Linked DNA regions of Homo sapiens. The protein of the gene in region 2 purifies or fractionates together with the protein of the main gene of each other region. This does not show direct contact. Each region holds a gene or a part of one and is shown on either strand. Other genes may lie near its edges.

What was found. Proteins that work in one complex are often made in the same cells at the same time.
Region 1: the proteins of MFSD2A (region 2) and MON2 purify together in Homo sapiens (affinity purification with mass spectrometry; one large-scale study listed by BioGRID and IntAct). This does not show direct contact.

Annotation. Positions count from the first base shown.
Region 1 is NC_000012.12:62,548,912-62,554,456, reverse strand, and holds part of MON2 (protein MON2 homolog), read right to left. Parts: intron 4,790-5,545; coding exon 4,627-4,789; intron 1,577-4,626; coding exon 1,283-1,576; intron 1-1,282. UniProt on the Homo sapiens protein: Plays a role in regulating membrane trafficking of cargo proteins. Together with ATP9A and DOP1B, regulates SNX3 retromer-mediated endosomal sorting of WLS away from lysosomal degradation.
Region 2 is NC_000001.11:39,963,944-39,968,644, reverse strand, and holds part of MFSD2A (sodium-dependent lysophosphatidylcholine symporter 1), read right to left. Parts: intron 3,435-4,701; coding exon 3,311-3,434; intron 3,175-3,310; coding exon 3,096-3,174; intron 2,789-3,095; coding exon 2,631-2,788; intron 2,045-2,630; coding exon 1,954-2,044; intron 1,835-1,953; coding exon 1,713-1,834; intron 1,560-1,712; coding exon 1,476-1,559; intron 1,018-1,475; coding exon 934-1,017; intron 842-933; coding exon 729-841; intron 312-728; coding exon 168-311; intron 77-167; coding exon 1-76. UniProt on the Homo sapiens protein: Sodium-dependent lysophosphatidylcholine (LPC) symporter, which plays an essential role for blood-brain barrier formation and function. Specifically expressed in endothelium of the blood-brain barrier of micro-vessels and transports LPC into the brain.

The sequences.
Region 1 (5,545 bases), on a different chromosome or scaffold from region 2:
TGTGGTCTCTGAACTAACCAGCAGCATCAAGCTTCACCCAGGAACTTGATAGAAATTCAAATTCTCAGGACTCACTCCAGGCCAAAATAATCAGAAACTCAAGTTCAGGGAGGGCTGACAATAGTGGCTCAAAAATCTGTGCTTTAACAAGTCTTTAAGGTGATTCTGTTATTCTCTAATGTTTAAGAGACTGAAGTAGAATAGTCTGGAAATCAATTACAGAAAATAAGACAATGCAAGGTGTGTGAGAAAAAAATCATTAAGAATTAGGCAGCAAGAAGATAAAAAATGAAGTTGCTTGAAAGGAAAATTAGAATCAGAAAAGTATTAGATTAAAAACAAACTGTATGGGAGAATTAAGCATGTTTGTGATCTGAGGAGGAACTATGGGATGGAACTGAAATACAAGACAGAAGGAAAGAGGGCTTTTACTATAATAGATATGGGGTTTCACCATATTGGCCAGGTTGGTCTTGAACCCCTGACCTCAGGTGATCCTGCTGCCTCAGCCTCCTAAAGTACTGGGATTACAGGTGTCAGTCACCATGCCCAGCCCATTAATTTTTTAAGAAGACATTTTGGGGTCTATTAATTTGAAAAACTCACAAAAGCAAGTGAAAGGATTATAAACAGAATTTTATTATAATGGAACAGATGGAACAAAAAAGATGAGACTTTTAGCAAAGAGGGAATGATCACTAATAAACTGCTGATTTTATTAGAAAGTTTCAAAAGAAGAAAAAAATGAAATTGTAATTTAATGAATAAACATTACATGTACAATATACCATTTGGAGGTTACTTTTGTTTGGTGAGTCTACAAATAAACTTCATTGCTATTGATATTCATCTGTTAATAAAATTCTCTTTTGATTATATTTAAATTACATATCTATAAGTAGACCTCAAAAGTAAAACAAACAAAAACCCCAAAAGCTTTCTACTCTATGGTAAGGGATTGATTACCCTTTGTTGTTTAGTAACTCCTGGTTTTTACCATTTGGGAAAACTGGGGGAAAAAAAGGAGACAGAAAGGCAAAGGCAGAAATCACGAGAGATATAATAATAAGAGATGAAGACAGAAACAGAGATAAGGCTGTTAATATTTAATTTGCTCTTTATGAGGTACAATTTACAATATGACACAGTTATTTCCTGTTTTGTCAAATACACAAATGCATGGAAATTCTTTAAAAATTAAAAGAAATAAGTTTAACTGAAAAAGTATTAATATATAAGCATGACTCATTAAAAGCTGATAGTCCAATCTATTTTACAATACCTTCCAGATAACAGTGTGCCAGGTTGAATGCTGTAATAAAGTTCCATGCGCACCAATTGTAGAAAACAGAGTTTGCCCTGCACTCTTCCTGACAGCAGGACGGGGATCCACACATAGTTCACCCAATTTTGCATAAAGACATAACCACAAGCAATCAAATGGCGGTGCAGGGTGGAATGGCCGATTTAAAACAACTCCTTTCTCTTCTGCCTGCTTTTGCTGTGCTGCCTCTTCCTTATTTAGTTCTTTTTCAATAGTTTCCCCTCTTTGGAAAAAATAATCTGAAATATTCCACTAAAAAGCAAAGTAGAAAAATATTAGTTCATCCAAGGTTTTGTTTTAAACACATAAATATGCAACATGTGGCTGTTTTACCTTTCAGAGTAAAACTTTAAAAACATTACTTCAAAAATCTCTTTCCTAGTAGAATAGATTCAATGAAAACATCTCTTCTTCTGTCAGTGTCTCTACATTATTTCAGGAGAAAGTGGGGAAACAATCTTGAGCTAACTTTTTTTTTTTTACTTTTTTATTATAAAAAATGTCAAGAACATACAAAAAACCAAGAATAGTATAAGGAACTTGAACATATTGATGTATCTACCACCTAAATATAACAACTGTTAACTATAAAAAAAAACTATAATATCATTATCACCCTAACAATGTTAACAATTCCTTAATATTGTTTAATAAGTTTGTAATTTCATACACGAGCAATTACTGTTTCCAAACATATCTTATATTAATGATAATTATGCCAATGGTTAAAATGTAGAGAATCCAGTACTGTGAACATAAATGTAAAATAAAGGAGGTGCTATCCAGCAGTAATTTAAGCAATGTTGCACTAGCCACCCACTTGCAATCATATATGCAACATGCTTACATTTTTTCCCATGTAAAAATGGGAAAAATAATAGTAATAGTAAAATACAGTTGTCCCTCGGTATCCGTGGGGGATTGGTTTCAGGACCTCCCACTGCATACCCAAATCCACAAATCCTCAAGTCTGTTATATAAAATGGTGTAGTATTTGAATATAATCTACACACATCCTCCTGTATACTTTGAATAATACTAGGTAACTTTTAATACCTAACATAAGGTAAATGCTATGTAACTAGTTATACTGTATTTAGGTAATATTGACAAGAAAGCCTGTACATGTTCAGTACAGATACAACTATCTTGTTTTAAAAAAAAATTTTCTATTTATAGTTGGTTGAATCTACAGATGCAGAAGCCACAAATATTAAGAGCTGAACGTAGGAAGAGATGAATGTAGTAACTTATCTAGCTTGTGAGGAAAATTTAAAGTTCAAATTTATAAAACTTCTGAGTTTTAATATACATTTAAAAGATTCTAAATAATTGCCTTAAAATATATGTTGAAAACAATTCTGTGCATGTTTATTTCATGTAATGTTAACAATTCTCTAAGATTTCATTACAGAGATGCCTTGTTTTATTGCACTTCTCTTTGTTGTGCTTCACAGATAATTGTAATTTTTATAAATTGCAATTTATAAAGGTTTGTGGCAACCCTGCATTGAACAAGTCTGTTGGTACCGTTTTTTTCCAGCAGCATGTGATCACTTTGTGTCTCTGTGCCACATTTTAGTAATACTTGTAATATTTCAAACTTTTTAATTATTACTATGTCTGTTATGGTGATCTATGATCCGTGATCTTTGATGTGACTATTGCAACTATTTTGGGGTGCATGAGCCGCACCTATGTAAGATGGCAAACTTAATGTGAGTTTTCTGACTGTTTCATCGTCAGGTTGTTTCCTCATCTTTTTACTTCTTCTCAGGCCTCCCTATTTCTTGAGATACAACAACAGTGAAATTAGGCCAATTAATAACCCTACAATGACCTGTAAGTGTTCAAGTAAAAGGAAGAGTCGCATTTGTCTCACTTTCAATCAAAAGCTAGAAATAATTAAGCTTAGTGAGGAAGGCATGTCGAAAATCAAGACAGGCCAAAACCTGGGCCTCTTGTGCCAGTGAGCCAAGTTGTGAATGCACAGGATAAGTTCTTGAAGGAAACGAAAAGTGCTACTCCAAAGAACAAACAAACTATAAGAAAGTACATCATGGCGGGCGCCTATAATTCCAGCTACATGGGAGGCTGAGGCAGGAGAATCACTTGAACCCAGGAGGCAGAGGTTGCAGTGAGCCAAGATCATGCCACTGCACTTCAGCCTGGGTAACAAGCGCAAGACTCCGTCTCAGAAAAAAAAAAAAAAAAAAAAAAAAAGAAAGAAAGAAGAAAGTACAGCAGGCTTATTGATGGTATCAACAAACTTTCAGCTGTCTGGATAGAAGGTCAAACCAGCTACAAGATTCCCTTAAGCCAACGCCTAATCCAGAGAAAGACCCTAATTCTCCTCAATTCTATAAAAGCTGAGCAAGGTGAGGAAGCTGCAGAAGAAAAGTCTGAAGCTAGCAGGGGCTAGTTCATGAGGTTTAAGAAAAGACGTTATCACCATAACCTACAAGTACAAGGTGAAGCAGCAAGTGCTGATGTAGAACCTGTAGCAAGTTATCCAGATCTAGCTAAGATCACCGATGAAGGTGGCTACACTGACCAACAGATTTTCAATGTAGACAAAACAGCCTTTTTATTATTATCATTTTTTTTTACAGAGACAAGGTCTGGGTCTGTTGCCAAGGCTGGAGTGCAGTGCTGTGATCATAGCTCACTGCAGCCTCCAATTCCTGGGCTCAAGCAATCCTCCCATCCCAGCCTCCCATGTAGCTGAGACTACAGGTGTGCACCACCATACACAGCTAATTTTTAGTAGAGATGGGAGTCTCATTTTATTGCCCAGCCTGGTCTCAAACTCCTGGCCTCAGCAATCCTCCCACCTCAGCCTCCCAAAGTGCTGGGATTACAGGCATCAGCTACCATGCCCAGCCTGAAACAGCCTTGTACTTGAAGATGTCATGTAGGACTTTCATGGCTAAAGATAAAAAGTCAATGCTTGGCTTCAAGGCTTCAAAGTACAAGCTGATTTTCTTGTCAGGGGCTAATGTAATTGGTTCACATAAAAGTCAACTGAAGATTTCCCTTGTATATACTATTGTTTACTAAACCCTTTCATGACAAACCCTGTAAAACCCAAACTTCAGCTCAATGTATGAAAATTATTTCAAACATTTTGTTATTAATATTTAAGTGATGTTATTTAATCCTTCACCCAGACGTAAGTTTGAAATTTAAAAGCCATATAAACAATTTGCAAAGAGCTAAAAGTATATTTGCTTAGCATTCACTCCCAACTGAATAACAATGATTTCTAAATTATATTATATTCTAAGGACAATGATACTTACCAATAAACCTATTGAAGTTAAACTAATATTGAGTTCTTGGTTATGGAGGCCAAAGCTACCTGCAACATCTACAACTATTTGCAGGCAAGTACAAGGCATTGTTGGTAGAAAATCTGTCACAACCAACTGAAGACACTGGAATGCAGTTCGTATCAAGGATTCTCTGAAAACAAAAGAAATGTATACAGATGCACTTATTTTATTTATTTATTTATTTTTGAGACAGGGTCTCACTCTGCCACTCAGGTTGGAGTGCAGTGGTGCGATCATGCCTCACTCTCAACCTCCCTGGATCATGTGATCCTCCCACCTCAGCTTCCCCAGTAGCTGGGACTACAGGTGCACACCCCCATGCCCTTTTTTTTTTTTTTTTTGTGGAGACAGGGTCCCACTATGTTGCCTTGGCTGGTCTCAATTTCCTGGGCTCAAGTGATCCTCCTGCCTTAGCCTCCCAAAGTGCTACGATTACAGGCATGAGCTACCACACCCAGCCTTACTTATGCATTTAAAAGAAATGTGTAAAAATACATATCTTACAATAATTTGAAGTAAAATTTTATTTCAGAATTTAAACAAGAAACTCCTAATATTGATCATAAAGTATTTTAACATTTACATAAATGTAAAAAAGACATGCTTACTTAAACAAATTAACAAAAACAAAGAAAGAAGCTTACAGGCAATAAGAAATAAAAACAAATTTAAAAATAAAGTATTAACATCATATTACTTCTATTTGTATTTCATACCAACTAACCAAAGAAAACTTAGACAATAAATGAGAATGGCAAGTTTGCTACAGTTATTTTTCTCCTCACTGTATCCCTGATATCTAGTACAGTGTCCAGTACATGTAAATACACACAATTTACTGAAAAAGAGCTCCTCATTCTTTTATATCCGTACTGTATCTTATTTA
Region 2 (4,701 bases):
CATGGTCACGAGCATGTTCAGTGTAAACTTGACACGTTCCGGCTGCGAGCAGCCACGGGTCTGGTACCCTGCAAAGCTATGGGACCCAGGGGGTAGGAGAACGGTGAAGATGGGGCACCTGGGGCCTGGCCCTGCCCAGTCCTGCCCCAGGTCCCCACCCCACTCACTCCAGACTGAGGGTAGAAATGCCCAGTGACACTCCAGAGGCAAACTTGGTGAAGAAGACATAGAAGGAGAAGAAGATGGGCTCGGTTCCATGGAAGTGGGGCTGCTTCAGATGGAAGTCGTCAATGACATCAGGCAGCATGGACCTGCGCAGAGTAGTGACAGCCATGAGGACTGACCCACCTAACGGGCCTCTGTGTTAATGAGAAGAGGTGGCCCTCTGGAAGCTTGCAGTACCATGGGTACACAGCTCAGTGAGGATATGGGACCTTCACATGAATAAGAAAAGGCCTCTTGCTCTAAGAGGAAGTAACCCTGCCTGGAGGTGCTCAGCGTGGCAAGTGGAGCCCAGGCCAGATTACAGCCCCCATTTTTCACTCTGACTAGGTGTTCTTGCAAAGCTCACTACCTGTACAACTGTACAGGACAGACCTCCCCCACTCCTAACCTGGACCCACAGAATGGCCTGTGGGAGAACACTGCATAGAACTCTCCCTAAGGAGCTTCAAAACTGGGGACTAGGGGCTGGAGATACCCGAGGAGGGGGGCCTGTATATACCTACCAGGGTAGTAAGAAGGCAGCTGCCACACTGATGCCAGCTGCCACAGCTACCGCATATGTAATGATGAGGTTACTCTCCATGAGGGCCACCAAGATGAGAAATGGCACTGCTGACTAGGGAAGGGGGTGCAGGAAGATGAATCAGCTGGGAGGTTCCCACCAGACATCCCAACTCAACCCAGGCTCTGCTCTTCAACCCCACTCACTGAGATCCCAACATATACAGCTGTCTTCTTGCCAAACCGGGTCAAGAACCACTGCCAGATGGGAATGGTTAAAGTGGCCGAGAGCTGTGGATGGACAAAGGGGGTTAAAGGGAGGTGCTTTAGAGCCACAGAGCCCCTCCTGCCCTTCCCAGAACCCCAAAGTGGCTCCCAGCCCTGCCCAAGAGCAGCCAGATGACATCATGTGGGCAGCAACGAAGATGACAGGCACCTTTGACGGCTCCCCAGGGGAGCTCAGAGCTGGTCCAGGCCCACCTTGTCTGCTGCCCTCTCAAACCTCTGAGCCAAGTTCCTGGTGTCCTCGCCCTTGCTTTTGCTGTGCTCACTACTCAAACATCTAACCTCAAACTCTTTCTTTCACAGTCCTACCTTCGCAAGGTCCAACCAAATACCCTGAGAAGCCTCCCTCATCCTTTCATGACCTTGGGCCAGCCTGAGAAACATCCTCTGCCTATTCCAAGAACCATTCCACAGCCTATGTCACCTCAGCCCAGGCTGCCCGCCCCTGCTCAGGTCCCACTCACCATGATGGCCAGGAGTAGATTCTGGAATTCATTGCGGAAGCCCAAGGTGTAGGTGCAAAACAAGACAAAGTTCCCCTCCACCAGCTGGGCATGGAGCAAGGTAGGGAAGGAAATGCAAGGAAGGAGGTGATGTTGGGGCTGAGCCTCCCCAAGACATCCCCCAAGCCCCAGAGACCTCTGCTCACCCCGCTCCCATTACACCTCCTTCTCAGGCTGAGCATGTCAGAACCCACTCACCATGAAAGCCAAGGAGGTGAAGAGGAAGCCAGTAATAAGTTTGATGTATGGGCCGTGGCTCATGACCAGCCGTAGGCCCCGGAAGTAGGCGATTGGCTCAGACTGCTGGGCTTCATAGGGTTCTGGGGGCCAGAGCGGACAGTGAGGAAGGAGCAGAGACCCCTCCCAAAGCCTGAGGGCCAGGCAGAAAGATACAGCTGTCCATGCTGAGGCCTGCACCCCTTCCCAGGCACCCCCTTACCTCTCTGCTCCCGCACGCCCAGGATCAGGATGACAGCACAGATTATATAGATACAGACAATGACCCCCGCTGCCAGCAGGTATGCCTTTTGCTATAAGGAGGTGAAGGCGACATACAAGGATGGTCAGTTTGAGCTCATCCCAGCACCCCAGTTCCAGCAGCCCCACTCAATGATCTTGGGCCAGTCCCCTCCCCTCTGGGAGCGTACTGTCTCCATGTGTGAAATGGGAGGATCATCCTGGGCCTGCTGTTGCTTCCCAAGGCTGGACAGTTAAGATTCACAACATGCTCAGAAACCAGGCTGGTTGAGTGCAGCCCTCACACCTGTAATCCCAGGAGTTTGAAACCAGCCTGGGCAACTTGGCAAGACCCCGTCTCTACAAATAATAATAAAAGGAAAAAAACAGAAACCAGGCTGCAGAGTCTGACAGCCCAGAATTCAAATCTTCCCAAATCTCTGCAATTCACTAACTTTATGACTCTGGGCAACTTATTCAGCCTCTCTAAGCTTCAGTTTCTTTTTCTGCAAAGTAGGTATATTGGGTGCATTAATTGTTATGTATATCAAATGCCCAACATTTATTTAATAAACACTAGCTGTTACTATCTTTAGGATGACTACAAACCACCTCACTGTTCCTTATCTCCCCAAATCCCTGCCCTGCCCAGGGCCTCACCGTTTCCCTGTGTGAGGTGGTGCCATGTGTATGGTTGGCACTTTGTGAAGCTACTGTAGAGCTATTGAGGTCCTGGAAACAAGGCGTGTCTGCTTGGCCCACGATTTGTCCCTGGATCGCCGTGCCCAGCACTGTGCCCAGCACTTCCACAGTCATCCCTGGCAGGAGAAAAGGAGGTGTTTTGGAGGGGCCTCATGGATTGTGGGCCCAGGGAGGAAGGTCAAATGGGTGGGAGCCCAGCGGTAGCTCCAGGCAGGGTGGGTAGAGGTAGTGGGGTAGGTGACACCTTGGTTTGAACGCATATGCACCTCTCCAGGTCTCATCTGAGCAATAAGGGGATTGAGTTATTTTTAAGATGGTTTCACACCCACACTCTAGAGCAGAGCAAAGAGCTGGACCCGCAAGGGAAGAAGTATGGCTGGAGGGTCCCTGGAGGGTGGGGTCAGGTGGGCTGGGGAGACTCACGATAGGCGGTGGCAGAATCCCGCTCAGTCTGCTCGGTGCTGATGAACATGGTGAGAGCCGAGTAGGGAACATGGAAACACTGGCATAGAAGACAGGTCATTGGCTGGTCAGGCGGGTGGACACACTGATGTAGCTTCCAGTACCAACCCTGGGGGCCCCAAGGACCGCCCTCCTCCCGGCCCCTAGAGACACCCAAGGGAGGTACCCACACTCACCGTGACCATTGTTTCAAAGAGGCAATAGAAAAGCAGGTACCAATAGGTCTGGCCGTGTGGGAAGTCGGGCACGAACCAGATGAGGAAGTAGGCAATGACGGCCAGGGGCGTGGAGAAGATGATCCTGAGGAAGAGGAGGGTGTGAGTGGAGGCTGGAGGCTGGAGCCCAGGACCAGGCCCAGCCCAGTCTGCTGTGCCTCACAGGGTCCCCACAGGGAAGGAAGCTAAGCTCTTCCTTCCTTCCCCATACTCCTGCCAAATCCACCCATCCTGGGCCTCTGGGAAGAGGCTGATGACCAAGCCCGGAATGGCAGATGGGAACTGGGACCCCAGACTGAAATCCTAGGCATGGAGTGTGAGGTCAGAGCCTGAGTCTAGTCCAGAGGCAGCAGCCTCTAATGGGCTGAGAGTTAGGACAGGAGTCCAAGACCTCAGGTGCCTGGGCAAGGAGGCAAAGAGAAGGAGCAGCCCCAACTCCCGTGTTCTCACACGGATAGTCATCAACCGCACACACACACCCCATTCACACACACACCCCATTCACACACACACCTCATTCACACACACACACACCCCATTCACACACACCTCATTCACACACACATCATTCACACACACACACCCCATTCACACACACCCCCATTCACATACACACTTCACACACCCCATTCACACACACACACACACCCATTCACACACAGGGAAGCTGGCATGATGGGGAGAGGCCAGCTCCAAGTGAAGGAGTTGAAGGCCCAGGTGGGCAAATGTCCGCCTTCCCCATGTGAGTTCCACACCATCAAAAGGGGTTAGACCTCAGGATGGACTAACTTCATGGCATCAGTATAGCAAGGCAGCACAGGCCATGGTAAAGAGAAAGGCCTTTGAGCCACTCTTCAGGGATTCCATTCTAGCTCCACCAACTAACTATAAAACTTAGTCTTGGGAAGTTATTTAAATTATCTGAAGCTCGTTTCCTCATTTCCTCATAAGTTCCAGCTATGGGCTGGGCGCTATTCTAATTACTTAGGATAACTAGAGAACAGATAAAAAATCATTGCCCTTGTGGAACTTACATACTAGTTGGCAAACAGAAAAGTTGACATAATTTAAAAGTTATATATACCATTCAACCTTCATAAGGAATAAAATTCTGACACATGCTACAACATAGATGAACCTTGTAGACATTAAGCCAAGGAAAATCAGCAAGACACAAAAAGATAAATATTGCATAATTTCGCTTTGGAAGGATGTAATGGATGGATGGTGGTGATGGTGGCGACAAAGTGAATGTACTTAGGCTAGGCGCAGTGGCTCATGCCTGTAATCCCAGCACTTTGGGAGACTGAGTCAAGTGGATCACCTGAGGTCAGGAGTTCAAGACCAGCCTG